6 separate regions of the Homo sapiens genome follow, and all the other regions are reported to be linked to region 4. Evidence: microRNA targets listed by miRTarBase, many of them from high-throughput screens and not tested one by one. Region 4 holds a microRNA gene; each other region holds the end of a gene's coding sequence.

Region 1 (5,072 bases), not on the chromosome of region 4:
ATATGCCAGAGGATTATCCTGATCAGTTCGATGATGTCATGGATTTTATTCAAGCCACCATTAAAAGACTGAAAAGGTCACCAGATAAACAAATGGCAGTGCTTCCTAGAAGAGAGCGGAATCGGCAGGCTGCAGCTGCCAACCCAGAGAATTCCAGAGGAAAAGGTCGGAGAGGCCAGAGGGGCAAAAACCGGGGTTGTGTCTTAACTGCAATACATTTAAATGTCACTGACTTGGGTCTGGGCTATGAAACCAAGGAGGAACTGATTTTTAGGTACTGCAGCGGCTCTTGCGATGCAGCTGAGACAACGTACGACAAAATATTGAAAAACTTATCCAGAAATAGAAGGCTGGTGAGTGACAAAGTAGGGCAGGCATGTTGCAGACCCATCGCCTTTGATGATGACCTGTCGTTTTTAGATGATAACCTGGTTTACCATATTCTAAGAAAGCATTCCGCTAAAAGGTGTGGATGTATCTGACTCCGGCTCCAGAGACTGCTGTGTATTGCATTCCTGCTACAGTGCAAAGAAAGGGACCAAGGTTCCCAGGAAATGTTTGCCCAGAATGGAAGATGAGGACCAAGGAGGCGGAGGAGGAGGAAGAAGAAGAGGAGGAGGAGGAGGAGGAGGAGGAGGAGGAGGAAGGCAGCCATCATGGGAGCCTGGTAGAGGGAGATCCAGCTACAGACAACTGGACAGGAGAGAGAGAAAACAGCCCTCTGGATTCTCCAGGATGGCAGCCGATGTCACTAGAAGCTCAGGGCTGATGTTCCTGGTTGGCTATTGCCACCATTTCAGCTGATACAGTCCACCATCACTGATTACCGGCGCGGTTGCGGTGGATGCACTTGAACCAAACCAGTGTATCTCCTGTGATTTGTTTTCATGTGTCCGAAGACACCAGGGAAACAGAGATCCTGGTGTTGTTCCTTGTTATTACGTTTTACTGCTGAAAGTAAGAGGTTTATTTTTCTGTCACTCAGTGGAGACATACCCTGGAAAGGAGAGGGGAAAAAAAAAGCAAAGATACAAGAGATAATCACCTTTGCATTTGAAAGTTGAGGCCCGAGGTTTACTACAACCAGCATTTTTGCCAACGGTTGGTGATTGATTTCCATCACGGTGTGTGGGGTGGGAAGAAGTTGGCTAGGAACCAAAAAGGCTGTGCTCATGATTAAACACAAACCTGAAGGTATTTCCTTTATGTCCTTGGAAACAGGAAACGAGTTGTGGTTTTCGCCAGCATTCTTGTAGGAGAGAATCGGGGAAGGCCCCGAACTGCCCCCGGGCAGGGAGAGCCCCTCAGGCCTGTTGGTTTACAGAGAGACAGATGTTACATAACCAGCTCCGTTGATGCGTGGTCACCAGTGACCAGAGAAGCTACTCGATGCAATGCATCTGTTTCAGATACAGAAATATAGAGAAGATATTTATTGAAATTTAAGTTATTGTTATTTATTACCGTTCACTAATGAATTTCTCTTTTTTCCCTTATTTATTAAAGTTTCTTTTCAAAGGTGCCAAAGTATATGTGCTCGCAAAATGCAAAGAAAGGTGACAAAAGGAAATTTGAATTGGGAACAAGGGTCCATGCTTTTCAAAGTATTAAAAAGTTTTTTGCCAGGCAAAAATCACTTACTTTACCTTTTTAAGAAAATTTGTCATTAATTTTCCCCAGATTTCAGCATTTTTCCCAATTTTTATTTGTGGAGCATCTCAGGCAAGCCCCCTTTCCTGGAGCAGCGTGCAGAGACCACTGGCACTTGACTTTATTTCTTCCTTGCTCCATTGCTGAACAGAAATGTCGTGGGCTCCACTTCCTGTTGTCTTTAAGCTCTTAGTCCCCTCCACGTATACCTATCTGTACTATGCATAACCATATGTAGAAAAGGTTCAGTTCCTTTTAGTAGGTAGTCCTGGATTTAATGCTGACCTAAAAGTAATGTCGACAATGCTGTCAGGTAGCTGCCGTTCTACCGACTCCCTCCATCCCTGCCCACCCACTGCCCTCCCGAGAATATGCTGGCTGCCCAGTGCAGCCCGGGAGACACAGGGGCCTTCCAGAGGTAGGGTCTACCAGGTCCTGTACAACCCCTGGGCTGTCACCGGGGGTCAACAGCTGCTGCTCCTATATACCCAAACACCTGACAGCTCCCTGGGGAGCAGATGGCTGAGAAGGGTGCTGAGGAAGCCATATTGGGACCAGCCACAGCCACACACATGGAGCCTCATACTTAGGAGCGTGCTGCCTTTAAATGAAGGTGGTCGGGGCCAGTGCAGCGGCTCACACCCATAATCCCAACACTTTGGAAAGCCAAGGTGGGAGGATCTCTTGAACCCAGGAGTTTGAGACCAGCTTGGGCAACATAGGGAGACCCTGTCTCTACAGAAACTTTAAAAATTAGGCAGGCATGATGGTGCACACCTGTGGTCCCAGCTACTCAAGAGGCTGAAGGAGGATCACTTGAGTCCAGAAGGTCGAGGCTGCAGTGAGCTGTGATCATGCCACTGCACTCCAGCCTAAGTGACAGTGCGGTACCCTGTCTCAAAAAAAAAAAAAAAAAAAAAAAGAGGTTGGAGCAGGAGGAAGCATAGGGGCGGGAACAGCCACCTCCTCCATGCCCTAGATTGTGAATTTATCGGGCAGCCAACACATGTATGACACACTAGGCCCTGTATTACAGCTTGTTACGCATTTCATAAAAGGGATTTTCATTAAGGAGATAATCTATTACTACCTACCTTAGTGGCTACTAGTATAAAACTATGACAGATTTAGCAATTAAATGAAATACTGGCCTCCATCAAATAATCATAGTAACAAGAAGCAGCAGTTACCAGACATCTGATCCCCTTCCCCCAAAATACCCAAATTCTTCATGGTTCTGCCCTTCTCTGTCCTTTCTGCTCCCCTTGCTCGCCTGGGAAATGGAGGAAAGGCCTTCCCTCTCACACTGTCTTGGGATCTTGCTGAGAATTCAGACTGCTCGAAACAGTGACAAACCCCAGCCATCCAGTCATTCGTGGAGCACAATTTGGATGTGGCCCCAGGGGCATCTGTCCCATTCAGAGAACCTTGGCAGTGCGATGGCCACTGTTCCCAGGCTTCAACCTCAGTGACCCCCCCCAACAACTCCCCATGGAGAGTCCCTGCCCAAAAAAGCTGTAGGATCCAAGGGGTGTCAATAGCTCGTTCCCGGCATCACCTACACACCACAAGCAGGTTTTAATGGAAGCAAGTTGCTCCACCAAATCCACAAAAGGGTAAAGTTTGTGATTTTTCTTTATCATTGCGATCACCATCTGATACCGTAAGGAGTGCACTTGTTTGGAAGTTCTGACTTCTCTGATCTGTCTTGGTCGTTTGTGTTATAAAACCAAAGTTCTCTACAGACTTTATTTTTGTACAATATCATTTTGTAACTTTTTACAAATAAAAACTCATTTCTATTGCTCTCTGTACTTCTGTACTTCCTTGCATGCACTGGGCCAGGCAGCCATCCACAAGTATTTCTTAGGAATCACCCCCTTCTTACCACACAGCCCACTGGATGGTCAGTGGCCTTGCCTATCAACTCCCAGCAACCAATCACCCACTCAGGAGGGACAAAACTTGCAAAATTGTTCTTATTCATTCAACAAACCCTTATGGTGTGCCTACACTGTGCCAGGCACTGTTCCTGGCACCAGGGCTCTAATGGTGACCAAAGCAAAAACCGCTGTCCTCCTGGAGTTATTTTATTTGCGGGGAGACAGACAACATTCAAAAAAGTAAAATATGTAGTGATCCCTGTGTTGAGAAACGCTAAAAGAATACAAACAGGATCCTATAATATAGACACTAACAGGGGAGCTTGCTTTAATTAGAAATGACTTTAAGACCGAAGTTAAGAAACAGTGCCAACAGATCAGGAGCGTCCCAGGCAGAAGAAGCAGCTTGTATGAAACTGAGTCACGTCACAGACTGCCTTGTGACTATCAAAAGGCGGCCTTGCATGGTGCTCTATGGCTCTTCTGCATGGCCCCAGCCTAGGCTGCCCCATGGATGGCATTTGTGCTGCACTAGCCTTTGCCTGAAATGCCCCCTCTTCCCGATGCACGCCGTCCCTGCGTGGAGACTTGGTGGAGTCACGGGTACCAACCTGTGGGTTCAGGCATTCAGAGTCCTTCTGCCAGGACTGGCTGGAAGAGGCTCCAGGGTGGTGCTGAGGCCAGCTGCGTTTTCTCCAAGCCAAAATTCCAGTCCAAAGTCAGTGACTTGGAGCGGGAACATAAGATGGTAAAACTCCTGCTTACCTCCTCTCCCTTTTTAGAGCTATTTTCCCAAAGTGTGTCCAGGATTACTTACCCAGTGAGATGCTCCTCAAATTTAAAAAAAAAAAAAGGGAGGAGGACAGGATGGTTCTCTGATCAAATAACTTTGGAAAATACTGAGTTAAATAGCATCAACCCATGCTTTAAGGTTTAAAATATAACTGTAGAGCTTATCAGAGCCTTTATTGGGCCAATGATTGTTTCACAGTCCAGGGGAGGGTGTCGTGTGCAGAATTCCCCATGTAGACGTGACCATGGATCCATGGGTTCATTGTTTTGTCTTCTTTCTCATCACACCTGGTGACCACCCTGGAAACTATTTTGGGCCATCTTGCGTGTTCCTGTGAGTTTCATGGTGAGTCACGAGCTGTACTAGAGATTAATAAGAGGCAGAAACTACTGGGCAGCTCCCTACTGGGAGGGCACCCCTCCCCAAACACACAACACACACACACACACACACACACACACACACACACACACACACACACGGTATTTGGACCCTGGTTTCTTGCTCAGCATGAATAACAAAACGATTAACCAGTGGTCAACTTTAGAAACTTCCTTAACCAAGAAAAGGAGAATGTGCTGAGAGCTGGGAAGTCCCCAGCAGCCTGGGGGCGCCTGCACCTTGCTCCCCCGTCCTTCTTGGGCTGGTGCTTTGCTGGTCTGCAGCCCTGAGTGCGCGCCACCCCTCACTGCGATCCCCAGAGGGAAGGCCATGCTGTTGGCCTCCAGCTCTGAAATCCGCGCTGC
Region 2 (5,070 bases), not on the chromosome of region 4:
GTCCTACACATTCCACCTACTTCTTTTTCTCCAATTATCTCTCTTAATATTAAAAATACTCTGTATTGGTCAGGTAGGATGGCTTATGCCTGTAATCCCAGCAATTTCAGAGGCGAAGGCAGGAGGATTGCTTGATGCGAGGAGTTTGAGGCCAGCCTGGCCAACATGCCGAAACTCAGTCTCTAGCCTATAGTCCCAGCTACTTAGGAGGCTGAGTGGGAGGATCACTTGAGCTGGGGAGGTCGAGGCTGCAGTGGGCTGTAATTGCACCACTGCACTCCAGCCTGGGCAATGAAAGTGAGACCCTGTCTCAAAAAAAAAAAAAAAAAAAAATTCCCTGTATTAATCTACTCCAAGTTTCCAAGAGACACCATGCTACTTTAGGTGGCTCTGTCTTGGTAAAAATGTGCCTCTACTTCAATTGCCTTGCTGACTTGTAATGATGATGATTTTTTTTTTTTTTTTTTCAAGAAATCAGCCGAAGTAGACTTTCAGGGATCCACCTTCTTTGGGAAGCTTTCCTTCATACCATGTGCCTACTCCTGTCCTTGCTTTATTGTCCTGGCATTGCTCTCATGCTGTTTACATGTGTGTATCCCTTTCCTAAGCTGTAAGAGCCTCAAGGCCAGCACAGCGTCTAGCACATAGTGAGTGCTCATCAATTGTACAACCTCTTATAAACTACATGAAAATACATCATTATTAGATTGTAAATAAAAAATTGTAAAGTCTGCATGTAAGAGAATGTTATCCGGGTAATGTTCTCGTTATCTGTAGAGATGGCCGTTCTATAAAAGCTGCTTTGGAGTCATTTTCATGACCACAAGTCAGTCAAGTACTCAGTACAACTTAGACAAATGCAACAAGTAAACCTTGGAGTAGATGATTCTGGATTTTAAAATACAGATATAAAGGATATTTTTGAGACAATTAGAGGAAAAAAAGGTGATATTTATGATATCACTATCATATTTATGATAGGTGATATTATTGAATGAATGTTAACTTTCTTAGGGATGATAATGGTATTCTAGTCAGCTACAATGTCTTTTATCTTAGGCAGTGAGTACATGCTTAAATTTTTAGGGAAAAAAGCCTCATGTCTGTAACTTGTTCTCAACACTTTTTTTTTTTTTTTTTTTTGAGACAGGGTCTCACTTGGGTTGCCCAGGCTGGAGTGCAGTGGTGTGAGATCAAGGCTGTCTGCAGCCTTGACCTCCCAGGGTCAGGTGATCCTCCCACATCAGCCTCCCAAGTAGCTGGGACCACAGGTGTGTGCCACCACACCTGGCTAATTTTTGCATTTTTAGTGGAGATGTTTCGCCATGTTGTCCACACTGGTCTCAAACTCCTGGGCTCAAGCCATCTGCCCGCCTCAGCCTCCCAAAGTGTTGGGATTACAGGCATGAGCCACTGTGCCTGGCCTCAACGAGTTAATTTTTGAAAAGCATACATACACAGGGAGATACAGCAAATGTGGCACAATGTTAATTGATAAGAAGTGTGAGTAACTTTCAACTTCTCTGCATATTTGAAAAATTTCAAAATAAAATGTTTGAAGGAAATGCTAAGAACACAACAACAAAACCCAAATCTTTTGAAATTTAAGCATCAACATTGCTTTTGGCCTCTCTCCCTCCTAAACCTGCAGAAAAGTACCTCCCATTGCCATGTTCACACCACCACATTTCAATCAGGTTTGTGTTTTAAAGTTGAAAGCCACAGTCATCCCTTGAAAAACACTCTATACTTTGCTCTCTTAGTTGACCAACCGTTAATTTTTATTTGTGCAAATGACATTACATTAGACTTTAGAAGCTTAAGCAAATAAAAATGTGCTTCCCAATTGCTACGTGTAATTCCTTGAGATCAACTATCAGAGACTTTAATCTGAGACGACTTGAGGTGATAAGGAAGCAACAGAAGTTGGCAGCAGTCTTGCTTTAATCCTCTCAGAGTTGCCAAGTTCCTGGCAAAACCTAGTTATTTGTTATTGCTGTGAAGGTAACGCTGGAGCCCAAAAAATGATACCCCAAATGAAGGCCGCAGAAGCAAAGTTTCTCTGCCCTCCTGTCTGTTGACCCTGATTCTTCCCCAGGTGAGCCATAGAAACTAGAATTCCTCTTCTCCAAGACCGGCCATAGAAGCCAGAATCCCGTTTCCTGAAAGCCAGCCATAAAACCTAAATATATTGCTCTTAAATTTCCCCCACCTTTCTATGTAACAGCTGGCCATAAAGAAATTAAGACACTCATTCCAGAGGGATCCCACCCCCACACCCAGCAGAAGGAAATGCTGCAGACAGGCCTTGGTGAGCTTCCCCATGTAGTCTATTCTGATAGCATTAGGACCATATCCTTTTTGTCCATATTTCTACATGTCCAATCATATTTCTACATCGACTTTTCATTGAACATAAGCATAAAAATGAACAGTTTTCCCTATATCTTTGGGTCTTCATTCTGAAGGCTACCATGTCAAGTAAACTATAAGTGTGTTATGCTTTTTCTAGTTAACCTGTCTTTTGTTATAGGGGTGTTAGCCATGATCCAATGGGGAGGGAAGGGATCACTCCTTTCCTCAAGTGATCAGGCAGTTGGATCACTTGAGGTCAGGAGTTCAAGACCAGCCTGGCCAACATGGCAAAAACCCTGCCTCTACTAAAAATACAAAAATTATCCAGGTGTGGTGGTGGTGCATGCCTGTAATCCCAGCTACTCAGGAGGCTGAGGCACGAGAATTGCTTGAGCCCAGGAGGCAAAGTTTATGAGATGGTGCCACTGCACTCCAGCCTGTCTAGTCTGGGTGACACAGCAAGACCCTGTCTCAAAAAAAAAAAAAAAAAAAAAAAAGTTAACGAACTTAGGTACCTACTTAGGAGAACCAAAAATATATGGCCACACAAAAATTTGTACATGGCTGTTCATAGCAGCATTATTCATAATAGCCAAAAAGTAGAAACAACCCAAATGTTCATCAACTTACCAATGAACAAAAATGGCATATCCTTACACTGGAAGAGTACTGTCAGAAAAAGTAATGAAATACTGATAATATAAACATGGTACAACATAGATGACTCTTAAAAACACTATACCAAGTTAAAGGAGCCAAACCCAAAGGTCACATATTGCCTGATTCCATTTACATGAGATGTCCAGAATGGGCAAATCCATAGAGACAGTTTATTAGTATTTCCCTGGGGCTGGGAGCAGAGGGGTTGGGACTAGGGAAATGACTGCTAATGGTACAGAGTTCTTTCTGGGGTAAGGAAGATGTTCTGAAAGTAGATGGAGATGGTTGCACAACTTTGTGAATACGCTAAAAACCACTGAATTGTTCAATTTAAATGGGTGAATACTATGACATGTGAATTATATCTCCATTTTTTTAAAAAAAGTTAATGAAAAGCAACTTTCTTCTTATTTCATTTTTAGGGACAGGCAGGGGAGCCCAGCGGCATGCTGGATATGAATGTATCTTCAGCCTTCAAGTTACCATTGGCCAGAGGGAAGAGTGGCCCCAAACTCTGAAGAGCGCTGGCAAGGCTCCCCATCTTCCTCTCCCTAGCCTCCACAGGAACATCACAGTATGGCTTGGCATTTTTTTTTTTTTTTTGAGACGGAGTCTCACTCTGTCACCCAGGCTGGAGTGCAGTGGTGTGATCTCAGCTCACTGCAAGCTCTGCCTCCCGGGTTCATGCCATTCTCCTGCCTCAGCCTCCCGAGTAACTGGGACTACAGGCGCCCGCCACCACGCCCAGCTAATTTTTTGTATTTTTAGTAGAGACGGGGTTTCACTGTGTTAGCCAGGATGGTCTCAATCTCCTGACCTTGTGATCTGCCCGCCTCAGCCTCCCAAAGTGCTGGGATGACAGGCGTGAGCCACGCGCCCAGCCTGGCTTGGCATCTTTAGGGCAGATCTCAGTATGCCTTGCATTCCAATTCATCTCCAGAATCCTACACTTCCTCCAAGGTCAGTCCTCATGCGAGTCTCCAACCTCATCCCCACTTCATTTTCCTCATTGTACTTACCATCTTTTATTCGTATCCCACCAAATTTTGGCTTTGTTAGCTATACTGCAAATAGTAGATGCTCAATAAACTACTAGTGAATGAATGAACTTGGAAAAAAAAGCTTACACAGAAATCTGTACTGGATGTTATTTAAAAGATGAAATTTCATGGTTCAAATGTATTTTTCTCCCATAAAAATATTTTCTCTTCCATTTAAATATATACCTAATCTTTGAGAAATCTTGCACAAATGGCATTTTATTAAAGAAAATCTAATTTACAAAGCTTTGTAAATTTTAAGAAAAACATTCATAGATCATAAACAAAAATTTCAATATGCAATATTCAAATTTACAAGAAAATAAGCACAAACTTTTAGACAGTGCAGTTATTGCTGCACTCCTTTAATTCCTTATCCAGAGCCCAAAAAATGTAGACAAACCCTAAAAATGTAGCAGAAGCATTTCCGCACACTGGTGTCCAGAATCTAGTTTGTGCAGAAATGTTTCCACTAGATTTATAGAGTACTCTTCAGAAGAAAGAGGCGAGGGCTCGTCATTTGGTCACCCTTTGGACATTTTGCAACTCTTCAATGGGTTTCCATTGTTGGTTGATTGTTATAAGCTGAAGAGAAAAAAGGAAAAAAAAAAAACCTTTTGTTAAAAATTTGACTTTCATTTGCATGTCCCTCTTTCGGATTTGTCCACACTCCCCTTTAGAAAAAGCATCACCATTGTGTTTGTACCTACCTCTTTCCATATCTAAAACATGCACAAAATAGTAATGTGAGCTGGTTTCTATCAGTCCATCTTTTTACAAAGCCCTTGGGCTCCTAAGTGTTATGAGATCAGAGGGAAAGATCAAACACATGTGCCCTACTTTCACTTAGCAGTATCCAGATTTTTTTTTAAGACAGTCTTGCTGTGTTGCCCAGGCTGGAGTGCAGTGGCACAACTGCAACTCACTGCAGCCTCCGCCTCCCATGTTCAAGCAATTTTCGTGCCTCAGCCTCTCCAGTAGCTGGGTTTACAGGTGCGTTCTACTACACCCAGCT
Region 3 (5,072 bases), not on the chromosome of region 4:
GCCTGGGCCTGGCGCTGGGCGACGCGGGCGACCCCGGCCCGCCCGACGCCGCCGCCCCCGGGCCGCGCGAGGGCGCCGCCGCCGCCGCCGCCGCAGCTGGGGAGTCCTCGCAGGAGGACGAGGAGGAGGAGCTGGAGCTGCCGGAGGAGGAGGCCGAAGACGACGAGGACGAGGACGACGACGAGGACGACGACGACGAGGACGACGACGAGGACGACGACGACGAGGACCTGCGCACCGACTCGGAGGAGTCGCTGCCCGAGGCGGCGGCGGAGGCGGCGGGCGCGGGCGCGCGGACCCCGGCCTTGGCGGCGCTGGCGGCCCTGGGCGCCCCCGGCCCCGCGCCCACTGCAGCCTCCTCGCCCTAGCGGCGCCCGCGGGTGGCCCTGGCGGCGGCCTCGGCCTCGGCCTCGGGAGCGGCGCCGCCCCGCGCGAAGCGGCCCCTGGGCAGAGCCCCGCGCCCCGCCGGTGCTTCCGGACCCCGAGTCCGTCTCAGGACAGAGGCGGGGACCCCTCTGGTGCTCCGCGGCCGAGGACACAGGCGGCGGCGGTGGCCCTGCTCTAGGGAGGCCGGGTCTCTTCAGGGAAACAGAAGGTGCTCTTGTCCCGGGGTAGGGAACCTAGGAGCAGGGGTCCCGGGCGAATGCGGCGCAGCTCCCGGCCGCTGCCCCGGCGCCCCTCCCCGCGGCCGATTCGGCCCCGCGACCATTGCTCAGGACTGGGACGGGCGCTGGGGGCCACCGGGACCCCCACCGCGCGCCACCAGGGCGGGGTGGCTCCTGGAGCCGCTGGCGGGGCCTCCCTCATGCAGCTAGGATCCTCCCCCCTGCCCAGGGGGAGACGGGCAGAAGGCAGTCAGCACGGGTGACACTACAGGGACCGTGGAGGAAGCCTCACGGGAGTAGCAGCCGCGGAGCTCCAGCTCAGCCCCACCCCAGGGCCCGGCTGCTCCCCCAGGCCTGGGTCGGGTCTGTTTGGCGACTCCCTGGCCCCAGCCTCCGCCCCAGGGAAACCGAGGCTGCGTCCAAAACCCAGAGTAGCCCGCTGGGGGCCGGGGCGGGGTCTCGGCCACCCTGGTGGTGCAAACAGGAAGGATGCGCCTGGTTTTGGCTTTAATGTTCAAAATGGAAAAAAATACAAGAAAGTTGTACAGTATTTTTCCTGTAAAGGTTATTATTCTACATAGAACAAAAAGGAAGAAAGCAGGCGTGGTGAGAGTGCAGACCCGCCTGGGCCCGGCCTGAGGTTGGAGGCTCAGTCCCGTTTATCCTGTGGGATTTGGTCCAGGGTTTTTGTAGAGGCCTTAACTGTTTGAGGCTGTCTGTCTTCACAATAGCACTGATGGGAGCTGCGTGATTCCAACTCTTAACTTGAATTTTGTAGAGACAAGAAAAAAGGACTATTACTGTTGATCCAAGTTTGTAGTTAATTTAACATTTGAGTTCTCTCTTGGTGATGCGTGTGGCTTTATAGGGCTTTTTTTTTTTTCCAGTTTGTTTTATTACTTTGTTTGGGATGCTTCTTCGCTGGTGCAGTCTACCCAGATTGGGTTCCCTTTGCAAAACATCCCCCTTCCTGGAGATGATGATGCCATCGAAGCCCGGGCCAGGGCCTGACCTGGCAGGCACACACCTGGCCAGTGGCTCTGAGGTCCCCGGGGACCGAGTCCCCTGCGAGGGCAGGCTGCCCGAGGCCACACCTGCCCACCTTCCCTACTCCAGGCCACCAGCTGGTGTCAGATTGGGCCACCGGGAGAGAACAGGCCTAGGAGGGAATGGAAGGCTGGCGGGGAGGCTGTCATCCAGAAGCCTCCTCCCCAGAGGTCTCCAGGAGGAACCTGGCTCAACTGGGGGGCAGTGGTTTACTTTTCCCTTTTTTCTTCCTTTCTTTTGTCCTCTCAGCTGCCCACAGCCAGAAAGCCAGGACCACCCGAACTGGACAGGGAGCAGGGAGGGAGGAGTGGTCGCACGGAGCGTACCTGATTCAACAGGAAATCAGTTATTTTCTAAAACAGCCCCTACCAGAGCCTCCTGAACTCTGTGGGCACCACGTGCTGCTGTGAGCATCTGCCCAGACAGTGACCCGCCACAGGCCCCGGGCGTCTGTGGAAGGAGTTTTGTAAAGGAAAAAAAAACACACACACACAAACATTTTTTCAATGTAGCAAAATCAAACTTAAAAAAAAAAAAGAAGAAAAGAAGAAGATGCCGACAGTGCGGAGTCTAGCCTTTTGTAAACTTCATATTGCACACTAGGACTATAAGCCATTGCTAGCTCATTTTGAATTTTAACGTGTAATTTTTGTTTTATTTTCTTTCTGTGGGGAAACAATGCTTGATCCACCAATGCTCTTTTTAATGTTTTATAACTATGTATGTGTATATATATAAATATCAAATAATATGTATGCACATATGTGTGTGTATATATCTATATGTATATACATATATAGATATATAGAGATATATAGAGAGGTTTTGAGACAAAAAAAATACAGAACGTGAAACCCGAGCTGAACAGCGTGTGCTCTGATTACTTGAATCTGGTCTCCTCGGCACCTGGTTATTAAGAACTGAATATTTTTCCACTTGAATTTAGTGCTATTAGAAATTTAATATATGTGTTTTATTTATTTGATTTTTTTTTTTTTTTTTGCATGACTGATGCAAGGTTTGACATTTTCACTCAATAAAAACTGGAAAAAAATCTATCAAGTTATCTTTTATTCTTAAAATCGCCCCCAATCGGCTGGCCATGACCCAGCTACACCGGTGGGGTGACGGGAGGAGTTGGGCACCCTTCGACCCTGGCAGGAAAAGCGGGGAACAGACCAGTTTTGTCCCCGGGCTGCTGGGGACAGAGGTAGGGGGCTCATTCCTGGCCTGGCCAGAAGGGTAGCCTCCTCCCCAGCCCTGCTTGAAGCCCCCACTTGGGGCTCAGGAGCCATCTTTGGGCAGAGCCATTTGACACCAAGGCCTGGGTCGTCGGACAAAGGCCCTGCAGCCTCCCAGGACCCCCACCCCAGCCAACCCTCTCCTCTCCTGGGCTGCTGGGCCGGCGTTGGCAGGGCCACCCTCCTGCCTCCTCCCTCGGCTCCTTCCTCCTTCCTGCAGGGACCTGCCCGGGCTGGGAACGGCGCGTACCCGGATCCAATCCGGATGCTGGCGCGACTCCTGCCTGGAGCACAGGGTGGCAGAGCCAGAAGGGGCCGATAATTCCTGGGTCCGTAGCCACCAGCCCAGAGCCTGAGCTGCCAGCCCTGGTGGCACCGTGGTTGGCTCCCTCGGAAGCACAGTGGCCGGAGTGTCCACCAGACCTAGCCTGGAGTACAGGCCTCCCAGGCGCTCCGAGAGTTTGTCTTGACACTTCCAACTGATGGCCGGCTCCTCACGACACCACATCGTGAGAATCACCTTGGCAGCCCCTCCCTGAGCTGGACTCCAGGTGGCCGGAGCTTCCTGGGACCTTGGGGAGGGGATGTGTGCGGGATCTGCCACATTCTTCCACGCTGAGGAGTCTTACCGGCTCATCACACCCCAGCCACAGGGATGTCACAACCACTTGCCCGATGAGGAAACAGGCAGACTTGGGGGCTGGAGAGGTTCGGTTATCGCAGCACGCTTCTCCCTCACTGAGCCTGGCACCAGCCGGCCAGGCACCAGGCACCAGGGACCAGGGACGGCAGGGGAGTGGCCTCAGCCCACAGCGCCCAGGCCTGTGTCATTTCCCACCGCAGAAGTGCGTCTCCAGCCCAGCCCCGGCGCGCGGGCACTCCCTTTCTTCTTTCCTCCTGGAATGCAGCCCACAGGCTATTTACATAAATATGTTTGTAACAGACATGAAAATATATACTTTTTTCTGTCTTATTAAAATGTTCAAGTTGGAACTCGCCTATTGTTTGCGGATATCTTGATTCTGTTAAATAAAACAGTGACTAATTTATGGGATAAAACACAAGTTCAACAAATTAAAACCATTATTGGAGCTTCCCAGGCCCTGGTGGGCCTCCCGTGGGGCCTGAAGCGAGGCAGGGAGCCAAGCCCTGAGCAGCCGGTGGGTGGGTGGTGCAGCCACAGAGCTCCCTCTAGGCTCCGGCACAGTGGGCAGCTCTCTGGGGCAGCACTGACTCCTGGGGCCCAGGGGAGGGAGAATGGGGACTCAGGGTGGTTTGCTGACCTTGGCCAGACCCCAAAACTGCCCCCTGGTCTTCTGGGCCTGGATGGACCACACCCAGGGTCAACCAACCTCACGACAAGCAGGGCCCCGAGTCCAGCCCAAGGAAGGGGAACGGGGACTCGGGGACCTCTCAGAGGCATCTCAAGGCCTCAGGACGCTGCACCCAGGCCAGCCCATGATGCCACATCCCAGGCCCCGCCCCAGAGGGTGGAGAGAAGCTCGTACCCCCACCAGGCATGTGTTGCCCACTCTGAGACCGCCCCCAAGAGCCGGGAGGGGGCCTGCAGCTGCGGGTTGGGATGGGCCCAGGTCCCACGGCACTCCCTGTGGCTTGTTGGACTCAGTAGGAAATGCAGTAAAGCATGCTTTCCTTCTGGGATTTAATTAGCTGTGGTGTGTGATGCTCCTACACCCAAACTGGGGCAAATTCAAGTGTTTTGCAACCTCCTGGAAAGGGCCAGAACCCGCCGCACAGGCTCAGGGCTGAGCTCAGGGGCCTGCCCACCTCCCACGGACCTGGCCCAGCAGGGGCGCCACCAGCAACCTGAGTCACCCGTGGGCGCCGGGCCTTGGCGCTCACGAAGCGGCCTTGCCCCAGCCTGGACATGGCGACAGGCAGCCCCCTTTCTGGGCAGCATACCAGGCCACTGGGCAAAGGCCAGCTGCCCATCCACTGTCACGGGAGGTGGCCCTGGCCCCACAGGTAGCGTTGGTCTAGGACCAGGGCTGGCAGCAGTGCCCTCTGAAGGGCTGGAATCCCAGAGCCTTGTCTGAGAATGAAGCAGCCAGGCCCCGGCCATCCTTGCTGGGAGGTGCCTCCGCACCCTCTGGGGCAGGTCAGGGAGGAATCGGCAGCTCCCAGGGGGCCCACAGCCAGCGCTGGAGCAGCTGGACCC
Region 4 (5,072 bases):
CCGTATCTTTAGAAAGGAAGAGAGTCTAGAGGTGTGCGGGTAAAGTCTGCAGCGCTTAGGTATGAGCCACTGGTGGGTGAAGGGCAAGGCTGAGGTCTGTCATTTCTTAAAATCTCAAGCTCTTTTTGATGCCTTTATATCTCAGTCTTCAGGGAGGGTCTTCAGTGCTGCCAAGTGGATTCTGGTCCTGGTAGGCAATGGGGAGCCGCTGATGGGCTCTCAGCAGGGAGCAGCAGAATGGAAATGGTATTTAAGAGGAGGCCTTTGGACCAGGCGAGGTGGCTCACACCTGTAATCCCAGCACTTTGGGAGGCCGAGGCAGGAGGACAGCTTGAGGCTAGGGGTTTGAGACCAGCCTGGGCCACATAGCAAGACCCCATCTATTATGAAAAAAAGGCCACTGATGCCAGCCATGCTGTGAGCAGACCAGAGAGCTGACCAGAGTGGGCTCCAGGAGGCAGGGGTGCCGCTCCAGGCCTGGGGTACATGCCCTCTTCTCCACAGTAAGGAATGGCTCTCCGATGATACTGTCTGTTGTGTCTGTCTTGGCTTGCTGCACACAGTGGCCACAGTGCAACCCTGGGTGGGCCCCGCAGCACCTCAGGGTGATGGGTGTGGGGGCTGAATCCCAAGCTCCACGGCAGCAGCCTCGCTCTGAGGCCTTCTTCCAGCCCAGCCCGTGCCCCCTCAATGACACTTGAGTCATCTCACTCAAATTTTTAGAAAAAAATACAGGTACAAATATGTTGAATACATTATATAGCAATACAAATAAACAAAAAAGGAAATAGCTGGAGCCTGGCAAGCCCAGTCATAGAACTTTCCTCCGTGACTTAGTTCAGATCACGTGGCCACTGCCAAGGGGATGTTACCCAGCAGCAGAACCGAAGCCTCTAGCTACTGTGAAAAAGAATGAAAGTCAACGTGGAGCTCGGGACCAGGCCAGGAGCCCTGACTTGCCACCATTGCCCTCAGAGCCCTCCCACCCAGCATGTGCCTGGGGAGGCACAGCTCCCTGCTGGCCCCTGTCTGTGGCAGCAAAGTGTGGCCTGCTCCCTGCTGAGCTCCAGGGCCAGGCATACAGCAGGCACTCAACCAATGTGTGCTGAACACAGGGACACATGGCGCCTAGCCCAGTGTTGGGCACGAGCCAAGCAGGTGCTCGACAGGTCACCAGGCTGACCTCAGAGGGCCAACTCCACAACCACATGCTGGTGCCCATGCTGGGTTCTGGGCTCAGGCCCCACAGGCTCCAATCTGCCCTGCCCCACCAGCCAGCTGGGCCTCACCTTGCGGTATGCTGGGCGGAAGCTGTGTGCCAGCCTGCGCAGGCTGCCCAGGTCCCGTTGGAAGCCCGCCAGTTCAGCGCCTGACGCGTGGTAGGTCTCCCCCACAGCCTGGCTGGCACTGGCCTGTTTTTGCCAGAGCGCTGTCCGTAGCGACAGTAGCAGGTCACAGGTGAGCAGCTGGACCACCTGTGGGGTCAGCCACGAGAGAGGGGAGACAGGTGACTGGCCCATCCCTGAGGCAAGGATCCTAGCACCTACCAGGCCTCTCCCCAGACCAACACTCAGCAGCTCTGGGAGGAAGTGGAGAGCCCCAGAGTCTGGTGAACTCCGCAGGACGTGAGGGAACAGCTCAGGGGAGAACCAGTTCCTTCCATGGCCCCAGGAGGTGGGAGACAAGCCCTCCCCATTCTGCAGGTGAGAAAGCAAGGCTCTGACAGGGACAGCAGCTTGTATAGGGAATACAGCACAGGCAGGTGGCAGGGGCAGAAATAAAACCCTTGTGGGTTGAAGGCGCAGGTTCTTCCACCCCATGGGAGTCCCACCATGGCTGGCTAGGAGGCTGAGATACCCACAAGGTACCAAGGAAAAGCCTGAAGTGGCAGCAGAGCCTGTCGATGGGGCTGGGGGAAGGAGGAGGAGGAGTGGGAGAGGGAGACAGGTGTCTCAGAAGACAGAACCACAGAGTGCCTTAGTGCTTGGGGACTAGGCCTACTGACCCGGCTTTGCCACTTACTAGCTACATGACCCTGGCATAGGACTTAGTCTCTCTGAGCCTCAGTTTCTTCATTCAAAAAAATGTAAATGGCACCATCACAGGGCTGTTGTATCATATGAGAAGGTACTGCATGTGGGCCATGCATACTCTCTGCCTACGACCTATGGGGCTGGGCTGCCCACCCGGCTCGCAGTGGCACACCTGCACGACACCGAGCAGTGAGGAGTCCTTGTTGAGATGGGCCGCAAGCAGCCCTCCGGTCCTGATGAACTCCCTCAGGCTGAGCCTCATCTCACCCAGCCCTGGCTTTCCTCCTTCCCAGGACACTGGGCCTGAGGAAGACCCTGCCCTGTCCCTGCACAAGGCCTTGATCCTTGCCTACACTGTTTTCTGGCTGTTGTGTGCTTCAAGGGGATGTGGAAAAGGATCCCTCTCCTCAAAACCTGGCACTTCTAAGCTGTGCATGCTGCAGAAGCACCTGTGGGCATGGAGGCAGCAGGCCTATGTCTGGATTCTGCCCTCCGAGGGCCATCAGGCTGCATGGCGTTGTCTTCTAGGCTCACTTTCCTACCACAGAGCTGCTACCAAGGAACCCCAGTCCAAAGGGTGGCTGCAAGCCTCTCATTCCCCAAACTGAGCCTGTACTGTTTGGTTCTCTCATGAAGACAAATACGGAAGAGACTAATGGAAAGCCCAAAAGAGAAGGTGAAATGTGGCTCACCATCTGCCTTTGGTCTTGGCAGCCCAGGGCATTTGGGCACCCCCACCAGCTTTTTTTTAAAGATGGAGTCTCGCTCTGTTGCCCAGGCTGGAGTGCAGTGGTGCAATCTCGACTCACTGCAACCTCTACCTCCTGGGTTCAAGTGATTCTTCTGCCTCAGCCTCCTGAGTAGCTGGGATTACAGATACATGCCACCACACCTGGCTTATTTTTGTATTTTTAGTACAAACGGGGTTTCACCATGTTGGTCAGGCTGGTCTCGAACTCCTGACCTCAGGTGATCTGCCCACCTCAGCTTCCCAAAGTGCTGGGATTACAGGTGTGAGCCACCGCGTCCAGCCAGTTTGGGCCTTTTCTGCACATTGCCTGTCCCTGTAGGGGCTGCCACGCTGTCCTGGGTTCATCCCAGTGCCCAGGTCCACTGACAATATCTAGCTTGAAGTACTAGCCTAGCCAGCTAAGACCAAGCCCCAGGGAGTGGCTGAGAATCTGAATCTCCAGGACTCTCCCGGTCCCTCCCACTCTGGAGCTAAGGACATGTTCCCCGTAGACCAGGTGATGCTCCACTTTCAGCTGGGTGCCCTCCTGTTTCCTGGGATGGCTGTGACTTGGGCCCCAACAGTGGCAGCAGTGCCCTCTATCAGGATCCCCTCCCCCACCTGATAGGGCCTTCAGTCAGGGCAGTCTCTCGAGGGCCAGGCAGGCCTCTGTGATGCACTGTGGAAACATTGCATGGGTACCACCAGAACATGCAATGCAACTACAATGCACCACAGCTGCCCGCCAGGAGGTATGCGGCCAGCCAAGGAGGTGCCCAGGGTGGTCTTCAGCTCTGTTTGTGTGCCCGAGGGGGCAGGAACCCACTCCAAGGCTGCCTGCAGAGGCCTGGGAAGTCACGCAAACCGCTGGAGCAAATGCAGGTGAACCCCTGGCCAGCTGGGGTGCACCTGGGCTTACAGAGGCTATGGGCCAGCAGGACCTGGGACTCTGGGAGCCTAAGAAAGGTGCAGGTAGAAACACACTTGCCTCAGAGGCTGAAAAGGGATGAAAAAGGAGTCCACCTAGGCCAATAAGCCGTAACTTTTTTGAAAGGGGGCTGCTGTCCTGGTTTCTCTGTCTTTCGGATGGCCCCACCCGCAGGGTCAGCATGAGGTGAGTGGGAGTGTTCTCGTAAACCAGTGCAGAGCACCTCCCCCAGGGGCCAACTCAGCTCCCACTCACGTGGTTGAGGGCAGGGTCAGAGGTGGCCCCACTGACGTTGAGGCTGCTCCATAGGTGGCCACTGGCCCTCTCGCAATGGCAGAAGGAACTCTGCTGCCCATCTGCTTTCCCAGGGAGTGAGGCATGCATGGCTCTGCAGGCATGGAAGATGGCCTTCACCAGGGGGCTCCTGCAGCAGTGACAGGGAGTCGAGAGGCAGGTCACTATGTGTCACCTGCGTGACAGGCAGAGGGGCCCAAGCCAGTGACTGCCACGCCCCACACTGATATGACATGTGCATCTGTTGACTCCAATGCTGCCACTATGGCACCATGCCACCAGCTCCAGATCTGAAATGCCAGCCCTGAGCTAGGGTTAGCGCCCCACCCTTTAGCACCTTCATTCAATGCTGGAAGTCAGAGACACAGGCTTCACCATCACGTCTGCTGCTAAGAAGCCACCCAAGATAGTCATTCCAACGTGTGCCTCAGTTTCCTTACCTATAAAGTGGCCACAATAAGGTGTTGTACCCGTTCTTTAAGGGACCACCCCCCCAGAGATGTGGTATTAAACTCTCTGGAGATACTTAGTTAGCTTCTTTCTGTAGAGGAGACTGGGAGTGGAAGGGGAGGCTAGGGATGGGGGAGGGTTCTCATAGCATCCTAGTCCCTGAAAAGCAGAGGGACCCAGGGGTAAGTGAATCCAGCAGGCAGCAGTGCCTGCAGGGGTGTCTTGGCTGTCCATGGAAGCTCTGCTGCTCTGGAGCGAGGTGACTTTGGACAACTTACCTGCTGAGTCTCAGTGTCCTCAGGCACATCGACTGGGGGAGACACACATACAGGTGGAATGCTATACCGGGCTGGGTGCTTACCTAGTCAGAGTGCTTACAAATGGGGCTACTTCAATGAAATTAGGGTGTCACATCTACTTCAGGGAACAAAGGACTTCAAGCCTGTGTATACTCACTCTTCTCAGCTCCTTCCTGTGCGCCGGTTAAGGGTCTGCTTGATAGGAAATGCTACAGCCTTGGCTCTAAGGATAGGACCTCGTGGGGCCTTTCTGTCTTGGAGCATTTTACAGTTTCTCTTAGAATACTCAGATCCAATTAGAAACAGCCGGGGAGTCAGCAGGCAGGGCTGCCCATCAC
Region 5 (5,072 bases), not on the chromosome of region 4:
CCTTCTCTACTTTGCTAGGTATGAAGATTATTACTACCACCCTCCTCCTCGCATGCCACCTCCAATTAGAGGTCGGGGTCGTGGTGGGGGGAGAGGTGGATATGGCTACCCTCCAGATTACTACGGCTATGAAGATTACTATGATGATTACTATGGTTATGATTATCACGACTATCGTGGAGGCTATGAAGATCCCTACTACGGCTATGATGATGGCTATGCAGTAAGAGGAAGAGGAGGAGGAAGGGGAGGGCGAGGTGCTCCACCACCACCAAGGGGGAGGGGAGCACCACCTCCAAGAGGTAGAGCTGGCTATTCACAGAGGGGGGCACCTTTGGGACCACCAAGAGGCTCTAGGGGTGGCAGAGGGGGTCCTGCTCAACAGCAGAGAGGCCGTGGTTCCCGTGGATCTCGGGGCAATCGTGGGGGCAATGTAGGAGGCAAGAGAAAGGCAGATGGGTACAACCAGCCTGATTCCAAGCGTCGTCAGACCAACAACCAACAGAACTGGGGTTCCCAACCCATCGCTCAGCAGCCGCTTCAGCAAGGTGGTGACTATTCTGGTAACTATGGTTACAATAATGACAACCAGGAATTTTATCAGGATACTTATGGGCAACAGTGGAAGTAGACAAGTAAGGGCTTGAAAATGATACTGGCAAGATACGATTGGCTCTAGATCTACATTCTTCAAAAAAAAAAATTGGCTTAACTGTTTCATCTTTAAGTAGCATTTTGCTGCCATTTGTATTGGGCTGAAGAAATCACTATTGTGTATATACTCAAGTCTTTTTATTTTTCCTCTTTTCATAAATGCTCTTGGACATTATTGGGCTTGCAGAGTTCCCTTATTCTGGGGATTACAATGCTTTTATCGTTTCAGGCTTCATTTTAGCTTCAAAACAAGCTGGGCACACTGTTAAATCATGATTTTGCAGAACCTTTGGTTTTGGACAGTTTCATTTTTTTGGATTTGGGATAGATTACATAGGAGTATGGAGTATGCTGTAAATAAAAATACAAGCTAGTGCTTTGTCTTAGTAGTTTTAAGAAATTAAAGCAAACAAATTTAAGTTTTCTTGTATTGAAAATAACCTATGATTGTATGTTTTGCATTCCTAGAAGTAGGTTAACTGTGTTTTTAAATTGTTATAACTTCACACCTTTTTGAAATCTGCCCTACAAAATTTGTTTGGCTTAAACGTCAAAAGCCGTGACAATTTGTTCTTTGATGTGATTGTATTTCCAATTTCTTGTTCATGTAAGATTTCAATAAAACTAAAAAATCTATTCAAAACATTACCTATTTCAAATTCAATTGTGTCCTAAAACATTATTTTATTCGTAATCCTTGCAAGGAATATTGTTTTCAAAGTATAACTGCCTATGTGAGTGATCAAATTCATGCAAAATTTCTTGTTTATTCCAACATGTGTTGTGGATATTAGACTGAGGATTAGTCTAAATTCAAGTATTTATTCCAATTAGCACTTTCATTGATTGGTGTTCTCTCATAGTCTCTTCTAATTTTGAAATTTTATCTTTTATTAAAAAAAAAAAAACAGGTTCATAGACTTTTGAGCATTCTTGCAGGCATTGGATAATTTGCATTAAAACAAATAAAATGTGGCTGGGAAAGCAGACTGCAATTTATTTTGACCCACATTCTTTATAAGGGATAATTTGTGACTGAAGACCTTATTTGCTGGATAAGTGAATGTACATACAGGGAAAATTGTTAGTACTGTGGCGTCAATTGCACTGCGGACTTTAGTTTTAGTGAAAATGATCGTGACTACCATTTCAGTTACTGGTTTAGGAATATAATTTCCTATTACTATGTAAATTTGCTTTGAGAAACATTCATGCCTTGTAAGAGAGGCTTAAAAATATCCAGTAGTAATACCTTTGACTTTCTGTTAACACTTCGTTTATTTTTATTTATCTGCTATCCCTGATGCCCAAATTTTTTGTTGGCCAAGACATAACATCTATTTCCCTATTTCCTTTAGAAATTCTGATTTATTCTAATGACTTTTTTGCTTGAGAATGAGAGGAACAAAAGAATCTAAGCTTTACGGTACAGAAAAGTGAATCACTTTCAAATTACTATTAAGTTTTCCCCTCCATCTTATTCTTACGTGGTTCTCAAATGTTTTTATAATGATAAAAATATCAGAAGCCATTGGGGAATAATTAAAATGGATACACCATTATTCTGTGTTTTGTTCCTGTTTGGTGTCTTTGTGATAGGAATATTAGATTTCAAAATCATAAGCCACTTAATTCCGTGTAATCTTGGCTAGATCATATTGGGTTTCATGGCTTCTTTTCATTTCAATTTAAGATTACTATTTACTGATGAAAGTCAATATATTTCATTTCTTTTTCAAAGTACACTCATTACACAGTATAGTCATTTAACAGACCTTATTGATATTTTAGTTTTTTGGAAACTGATAAAGGAATTATGGTCTGTTGTATGATAGTTTTGAGTTAACATGGGTATTTCTTTGGTAAGACAGATCCAGTTGTTTTTCTTATGCCCATGTATGCAAGTAAAGACACCAAACATTCTTTAAATGCTGCTTTTAAACTTTGAAAGTACAATTTGAAGTTGTAACTATACATCTAATTAGACTTAAGTAAAACCCTGATTTTTTTCCTGGAAAGAACAAAATCTACAAATAAAATTTGAGTTGTTTGTATTTCTTAATTAGGTGTTACAAGCTACAAAGTTGTCATAAAGAATGCTAAGAATGGGGATAGAAATGATTCTGAGAAAACAAACCCTCGCAAAAACATAAGATTAAAACTTGGGTTCCATGTCAAAATCCTTTCCTTTAATTGCAAATTATATTTTGAATTTTAAAGTGGCCACCTCCTCCTCTGTCCTTTTCACTAATTAAAAATATATTTGCAGAGGTACCCTCTAATATTTGGTTTATAGGTTTTGTGGCTATTTTAAATTGTAAAGCATAATCCTATAAACATTAAAACTCAAGAGCTTTTCTTCTTTCATGTCTTGTAAATTAACACTGTAGCAGCATTCAGAGAAAATAGATTCAGAGCTCAACTTTTCACATAAATAAATCTAACAGTGTAATATATAAACCTGAAAAATGTCAGTTGAGGGAGGTCTTTATTCTAGATTGGCATTTTTTTTTTTTTAAATTAGGTACAAATTATGAGTGTAAGGAATTTGGTTTCCTGCTCTCCTGTCTTTCCATCTTTTTTGTTCCCCAAGCTAATTGATTTGGCTTTATTTATGAGCCTGTTACAGTAAAGTGTGTGTTGGGAAATATATTGAGGTATAGAGCTATTCTTTGTAGGTACCCTGGTGAGACCGATACAAATATGCCCCTCCCCATAATGGAATACTAATTTTTATTTGATCACTCATTTATAGCAGTTGCTTAAATGTATGTATTTATATGAAGGTATTTTAATTTTTAAGAGCAAAAAAGTTCTAATAAGTTGCCAGATTTCTAATAAATGCAGGTTTATTTGGTGAAAAGATAAGGAAAATGAGTTATGATTCTGTAGTTTTTTTAAAATGAGTTCAGCATAATTGTTTTTCAGGTTTTTTTAGTTACTGGGGTTATTCTGCATAAGAAAGCCCAATGCTTTCTGATAGTAGGAGATAATTTTTCTCTCTTTTGACTTTGAAATCTGACTTAGGAGATGAATTCTTTTTAAAAAGGTCAGCATGCAAAAAAATAAATTATATATTTTAAATTCTAAAAGAGAAGGGACATAAAATTTCACTCCTAGCATAAAGCCATATAATATTATTCTTGAAACTCATTACATCATTTGCCTCCTGCCCATTTGAATATAATCATACCTACGTTTTATTAATTGTGCATTTGTAAAACCAAACCCTTCCAGTAAATACTTGCTATAAGGCTATTGCTTGTCAATTATCAAGGCTTCTAAATATGTTAAAACTTGTCATTTTGATTTTTCAAAGATAATTTTATTATACTGAGCTACCAATATTCTTAAAGAAAACTAACCAAAGTTAATATTAGTGTAGTCCATTATTATGTGGACAATTATTATGTGGAATCTCTTAAGTGAGCAACTAAGAAAAAGCCTTATAGAAAGACTACACTGGATTTATAAGTGTGTTTATGTTTCTCTAAGAATGGGAGCTTCTGTTAACTTAGGGGTGGAGTTGTTCTGAGGAAACCAGTAGATTGGATGACTGACTGGAGAATCCAGAATAACAAATCCATTAGCCAGACATGTTTACTTTTATATTAGAAGTTTGTTGATTAGGTCTTAATTTTCAAACGCAAACACCAAGCTTTAAAAATATTGCATATACAATGTATTGGTCAGCAATTTAATAATATTTAATTTGAAGTTAATTATTGTTAATCCTTCTAGAAAAGTTTTTTTTCTTTAAATAAAAGTACATATATATACTTTTTTATTTAGAGGTTACCAGAAGCTCTGGTTTTGTTTTGTTTTGTTTTGTTTTTTTGTTTTTTTAATCATTTTCAGATGTTATCCAGAAATCTGCAAGTGTACTTTTCCTGTTTTAACTCCTTCCTTTTATCACCTGACTATCAGGGAAGCGAGGTTGAGGCTGCCCTGACCTGACATGTCATGATGTCGACTTGCTAGGTGGGGTTCGCTGGGGACGATAACCAGTGGAATTGTTGGTAAGAACTTTTTTTTCCTATTTTTTTTTTTATCAGTAGTGGGGCATTAAGTGTGGGAGAATGCCCATATCCTATAAGTGGGCAATTATGTCAGCCTTGTAGAAAAATAGGACTTTAATATTAAATTATTTTGTTCTTAATAGGAACATATAATAACACTTCACTTACTTTTAAATTGGTAGCAGATCAGCAGGAAAGGCCTGCAAGTATGAAGTAATGAAATACTCAGGGTATATTTTAAGTGAGCAAAATAGACACCTTATAATCTTAAAAAGTCTCTTGGAGAGACAATAAATTTGCTTTAACTGTCATTTCAGTCTAGTATTATATTTTCTATATTTTGTTGGATAGATTAACATATAATGCATCTTAAAGAGATATTTATTGCACACTAATTTT
Region 6 (5,072 bases), not on the chromosome of region 4:
ATTCATGGGTGGGTGATGAAGTGAAGGCCCTCAGCCCCTGCTCAGGGCCCTCCTGTGACATCTCTCTGCTTCCTCCCCTTGCAGTGAGCATGGAGTTTGGGCGGGCCGTGTGGCTCCGCTTCCACCCGTCGGCCTATCCCCCGTGCCCTCACCCAAGCTTTGTGGCGCACTTGGGTGGCGTGGCCGTGGGCATCACCCTGGGCGTGGTGGTCCTGAGGAACTACGAGCAGAGGCTCCAGGACCAGTCACTGTGGTGGATTTTTGTGGCCATGTACACCGTCTTCGTGCTGTTCGCTGTCTTCTGGAACATCTTTGCCTACACCCTGCTGGACTTAAAGCTGCCGCCTCCCCCCTGAGGGCTGGAGGCCCAAGGTCGGGGAGGGGAGGGAAAAGCAGCACCCACAGGGAGCGCCTGCGAGGTTTCTTCTCATCACCAGCTCAGCTAGGCCGGGCAGACAAGGACAGAAGACTCTGGGCCACTGTAATGTTTGTGTTTAGATTTGGACACACAGTGGAGACCCTTTTCTGAAAGGCATCTGGCGGAGGAGTTGATGTGGCTGCTGTCGTTTTTCTCGGCTGCTCTGATGACATCGGGCCAGGGTGAAGGTCTGGGGTGGGGTGTGAGAGTGGCCCTCCCTCACCTGGGCTGGGCTTCTTCCATGGGGCCAGGGGGTGCCCCCTCACTGCTGCGGATTGAGCAGCAGCTTCTTCCTCCTCCTCTACCCTCAGAGACCCTAAGAGACATGGGAAGGCTCGAAGGTTGTTGCGTCCAGGCATGGCCCCTCTCTAGCTCAGAAATAATTGCAGGCCATGTGGTGTCTCCTTGACACCTGCTGTGTCTGGGGCTCCAGTAAGAAGAGGGCCTACTGGACATGTCAGCTGTGACCTGGCTGAAACCAGGGTGCCCTCCTGGGCTGGTTGGTGTGCACCGGGGCATGATCTGTTGTGCCTGGGTTGGGCAGAGCAGGGAGCCTGTAGGCTCTAGGACCCCTCTTGTGCTGGGGGTACCCAGTGAGAGGGACCCATGCAGGGGGAATAAACTTCATTCCAAGTTCCACCCTGGAGAAGACAGACCCAGGACCAGCTTCAGACTTCTCCCTCCCTTTCTTCCAGGATATTGGCATCTCACACGGGTGCCCCAGCCTCCATGCCCAGCCTTGTTTTAGGGTCTTTTTCTTTCCTTTTGCTGCCCTGACACTACTTTGTGCCTCTCTTTGGTTATGGAGACAGTGTTTTGAAACATTCATGCGTGTGTGTGTGTGTGTGCGTATATGTGTGTATGTGATGGGAAAGGTAACTGAGGCACGACAGCGCCTGCAGAGAAGGCATGGAGGATGCAGGGGGCCCATGTGGGCATCCGTGAGAGGTGGCAGACCGTGGTGTGCTGTGGTTGCTGAATGTCCTTGCTTTGACAAAGCCTGCCCCCTTCCTTCCCATCTCCTGTCCCTTCCACACCTGCCCCTGAGCATCACTGACCGGTGGCAGAATGGCCCTGCTGGAGGGAGAGCTCAAGCCCTCCAAGGATCCCTGGATGCTGAGGTTTGCCAGGTTCAGCTCTTGTTTCCGTCTGAGATGGCCTTCATATCCAAAAAGGTTCCATCCTATCTCCCTTAGGAGAGAAAGAGCTTTGGGGGCGCAAGAGAGGCTGGGGTAGGAATGTTGAGGCCATGTGTCCATTTAAGTTAGGGGGACAGGAGGCTACAGGAAGAGGAATTCCAGTTTAGTTGGAAAACTTTGCCTCAGGAGAATTGTTGGGTGCATGGATGAACCTCAGAGGGAGGGCAGCCAGTAGCCTCGGAGGCTTGGATGCGGGAGAGAACATGGTGGTTATCAAATCCACCCCACCCCATTACACAGGTGAGAAAACAAGATGGAGGGAATGACCCTCCTAACAGGAGCTGGTGCAGGCCCCGAATGGAGGGCATGAGGATGACCTTTGACAAAAGATGACACTCCCTTTATCGTGCTCTTGGAATTCTCAACCACTGACAGCCCAGAAGAACAAAGAACGCCAGGCCTGGGAGGAGGCAGGGGGGCTGGGCGTGTCCAGAAACAGGGGCAGGAGTGTGGGAACGGTCTTCCTCCAGCCTGGTGCCCATCCTGGCCCTTGAGTGTAGCAGGGTCCAGGGTCAGTCAGGCCAGGCATTTGGGGTCTTGGGCCACAGTGGCTTCCCATCCTGGTGACTACATGTAAATGGGCTCACTCACTCACTGGCAGGCGAGGCCCAGCCATACCGCATCTTGGCCCACTGCTAAATAGATTGCCCTGGCCTCATCCACATATGTAGTTCCCTAGGTCCTGCTCCCCTGCACCAGTGCCATGCTGAGGGCCGCAGCCTGTGGCACTGTGGGCCCACGCCTTTGGCGGTGTTGCGTCAGCCTGGGGCGTCTTGTGTGTGCCCTGCCCACCGTTCTCTGCCCTAGTGATAGAAAGATGTAGATGGAAGTCAGTGCCTCAGAGGAGGAGGCTCTGAGGCTGTGGAGCTGGGCTCAGGGAAGACCAGGGGAGGATGCAGAAGGAGTCAGGACATTGCTGCCTCTGCCTGGGCTGCAGCCGCACTAAGCTGAGCGATGAGGTCCTTTCCTGGAGGGATGGAGAATCCCCTCCAGATTCCTGTCCTGGCCCCTGGGGATTCTGTGGTGTGGGTGGAATGAGCAGAGTGCCACCTCTGTCTGGTATGACCTGGAGAGGGGGCTTCCTCTCTTAGGGGTGAGAAAGCATTGAACTAGAAGATTCTAGAAATCCCTCATAGAAGCACTCAGCTCCCTCGGGGACTCCCAGGGAAGCTTGTTACTGAGAAGGACAGTGGAGGCGGAATCGTGTCTCCCACCATGTTAAGTGTGTCCTCTGCTGCCAAGGACCCTCGTCTACACCTTAGACCACCAGCCCCAGCTGTTCTCTGTCAGCACACCCACCTCCATCCCCTCTCCCAACCATGACTTCCAAGCGGGGCCACAGGGTGGGGTCATAGGGTCACTTCACCTGACCCAGGCCTCTCCCCAGGTCAGGAGGCAGCTGTCTGGTCAGAGGGGTTCTCTTTGTGGCATCTGGCTTTCTCCTCAGCAGGTCCCACCACCCTCTCAGCAGCACTTCCCCATGGCCAAGGCTGGCCGTGTCCTCTGTGCCTCTTTCCTTGTCTGAGGTGGCTGCCAGCCCAGGGGGTGGTGTGTAAATCTTCAGGCTGGTGGAGGTAGGTTGGCCTTTTATCCACAGGATACAGAAACTGAAAGCTGGGGAATCCCCAAACAGCAGCCATAGACTCACTGGCTCTCATTAAACGGGAGAGGAATCACAGAAACTGGGGAAGGGAAAACAAACCTTCAAAGGAGAAATTTCGCTTTAATGACACCATTCATCATTCGTTTTTTAATTAGGAAAAGCTCCCTAATGAGGCTCTTTTGCCAGCTAATAGGACTCTCGATTTCCATGAGAACCATTCTTGCCCAGAGGATTAGGGGAGCTGTTGCTCACCACACCAGGATCTTCCCCCAGCGTCCAATTTAATTTGCAAATACGTAATGCAGATTCCCTGGGTGCCGTGAAAGCCTTTCCTGGCATCATTCATGTTGCTCCCCGTGCTGGCTGGAAAGCACGGTTCTCCTCTGCCTTAAAAACAGTGCCCAACAGTGAACTGCCCCTCCGAGGACTTGAGTAAGTGGAAAAAACAAAACACAGACTGCAATGTTTGTTTCTAAGTATTTTTGTATTGTGTACATTCTGTATATTTTTGTTGTAACATATTATTTGAGCACAGATTCCATTAAATATTTTTTTTCTTTTTCCAAGCCATTGGTTATTCAGGAAGTGACCTGAAGGGCTGGCATTAGGGCCTGTTTCATCTGGGTCTGGGTCAGGATGGGTGGGAGAGGGTGAACAGCAGCGGTGGTGGATCCAGGATTTCTATAAAATACAGATTGGGGCATCAGTGCTTAGCACCAGTCTGTAGCTGTGTGCATCTTACTTAACTTTTCTCAAATCACTGAACTCTTTTGAGTGGTTGATGAAAGCTGTGATTTCTCTTCCCATAAAAATGTGTATGTAGGACGGGCATGGTGGCTCACGCCTGTAATCCCAGCACTTTGGGAGGCCGAGGCGTGTGGATCACCTGAGGTCAGGAGTTCAAGACCAGCCTGGCCAACATGATGAAACTCCGTCTATACTAAAAATACAAAAAATTAGCTGGGTGTGGTGGCGCACGCCTGTAATCCCAGCTACTCAGGAGGCTAAGGCAAGAGAATCGCTTGAACCATGGAGGCAGAGGTTGCAGTGAGCCGATATTGCACCACTGCACTCCAGCGTGGTAACAGAGTGAGACTCCGTCTCAAACAAAACAAAACAAAAAAAACCAGGCCAGGCGCATTGGCTCACGCCTGTAATCCCAGCACTTTGGGACGCCGAAGTGGGCGGATCATGAGGTCAGGAGTTCGAGACCAGCCTGGCCAACACAGTTAAATCCCGTCTCTACTAAAAATGCAAAAATTAACTGGGCGCTGTGATGGGCACCTGTAATCCCAGCTACTCGGGAGGCTGAGGCAGGAGAATCGCTTGAACCCTGGAGGCGAAGGTTGCAGTGAGCCGAGATCATGCCACTAAACTCCAGCCTGGGCGACAGAACTAGACTCTGTCTCAAAATAAAAAAAAAAAAAAAAAAGGAAAAGAAAAGAAAATTTAAATGCTGCAGAATCTATCCAAGAACAAACTTTAGAGTGCCATTAAGGCTAAAGGCCAAAGAACCCACTTCTGTTTACAGTGTGGAGATCCAACTTCCCTAGAAGGAGAAATCAGGATCCTCTCTGAGCATCAGTGCTCTTATAGGTCAACTTCAGGCTAAAGTACCTGAGCCATTTAAAGGCAAGCTCCTGCCAGGCGCAGTAGCTCATGCCTGTAATCCCAGCACTTTGGGAGGCTGAGGCAGGCAGATCACTTGAGGCCAGAAGTTCGAGACCAGCCTGGCCAACATGAAAAAACCACATCTCTACTAATAATACAAAAAAACTGCCAGGCGCAGTGGCTCACGCCTGTAATCCCAATACTTTGGGAGGCTGAGGCGGGCAGATCACGAGGTCAGGAG

What was found. Region 4 holds the annotated microRNA hsa-miR-33a-3p (CAAUGUUUCCACAGUGCAUCAC, at 3,435-3,456, opposite strand). A microRNA usually pairs through its seed, bases 2 to 8, with sites in the 3' UTR of a target mRNA and lowers its output. Matches are read on the target gene's strand: a 7mer-m8 pairs with bases 2 to 8, a 7mer-A1 pairs with bases 2 to 7 and ends in A, and an 8mer does both.
Region 1: the mRNA of GDNF is a reported target of hsa-miR-33a-3p. The part of its 3' UTR that is shown has no 7-base or 8-base seed match.
Region 2: miRTarBase lists COXFA4L3 as a target of hsa-miR-33a-3p. Seed matches in the 3' UTR shown: 7mer-m8 at 4,518-4,524.
Region 3: miRTarBase lists CASZ1 as a target of hsa-miR-33a-3p. Seed matches in the 3' UTR shown: 7mer-m8 at 2,146-2,152.
Region 5: the mRNA of HNRNPR is a reported target of hsa-miR-33a-3p. Seed matches in the 3' UTR shown: 8mer at 1,295-1,302, 8mer at 1,329-1,336, 7mer-m8 at 1,858-1,864, 7mer-m8 at 2,570-2,576 and 8mer at 2,989-2,996.
Region 6: miRTarBase lists RHBDL3 as a target of hsa-miR-33a-3p. Seed matches in the 3' UTR shown: 7mer-m8 at 1,238-1,244.

What each region holds. Positions count from the first base shown.
Region 1 is chr5:37,811,061-37,816,132 of GRCh38, reverse strand. GDNF (glial cell derived neurotrophic factor) reads left to right here. Exons shown (of 3, transcript NM_000514.4): 3 at 1-3,456. The coding sequence ends at 482. Among named protein-coding and RNA genes, the nearest start is that of GDNF-AS1, 26 kb to the left of the region's middle.
Region 2 is chr15:45,432,518-45,437,587 of GRCh38, reverse strand. It overlaps COXFA4L3 (cytochrome c oxidase associated subunit FA4L3), which reads right to left. Exons shown (of 5, transcript NM_197955.3): 5 at 4,248-4,640. The coding sequence ends at 4,572. MIR147B (microRNA 147b) reads right to left here and starts at 4,538; the gene lies at 4,459-4,538. LOC107987223 (a long non-coding RNA gene) reads left to right here. Exons shown (of 2, transcript XR_001751510.2): 2 at 3,438-4,119.
Region 3 is chr1:10,634,238-10,639,309 of GRCh38, reverse strand. It overlaps CASZ1 (castor zinc finger 1), which reads left to right. Exons shown (of 21, transcript NM_001079843.3): 21 at 1-2,706. The coding sequence ends at 368. Among named protein-coding and RNA genes, the nearest start is that of CASZ1, 160 kb to the left of the region's middle. RefSeq lists an enhancer at 3,388-4,350.
Region 4 is chr22:41,899,373-41,904,444 of GRCh38, reverse strand. MIR33A (microRNA 33a) reads right to left here and starts at 3,501; the gene lies at 3,433-3,501. It overlaps SREBF2 (sterol regulatory element binding transcription factor 2), which reads right to left. Exons shown (of 19, transcript NM_004599.4): 16 at 3,947-4,115; 17 at 1,290-1,475.
Region 5 is chr1:23,306,013-23,311,084 of GRCh38, reverse strand. HNRNPR (heterogeneous nuclear ribonucleoprotein R) reads left to right here. Exons shown (of 11, transcript NM_005826.5): 11 at 19-5,072. The coding sequence ends at 631. Among named protein-coding and RNA genes, the nearest start is that of LINC01355, 23 kb to the right of the region's middle.
Region 6 is chr17:32,320,874-32,325,945 of GRCh38, forward strand. It overlaps RHBDL3 (rhomboid like 3), which reads left to right. Exons shown (of 9, transcript NM_138328.3): 9 at 85-3,786. The coding sequence ends at 356. LOC124903980 (a long non-coding RNA gene) reads right to left here and starts at 4,545. Exons shown (of 2, transcript XR_007065711.1): 1 at 4,505-4,545; 2 at 3,686-3,901. RefSeq lists an enhancer at 1,757-2,636.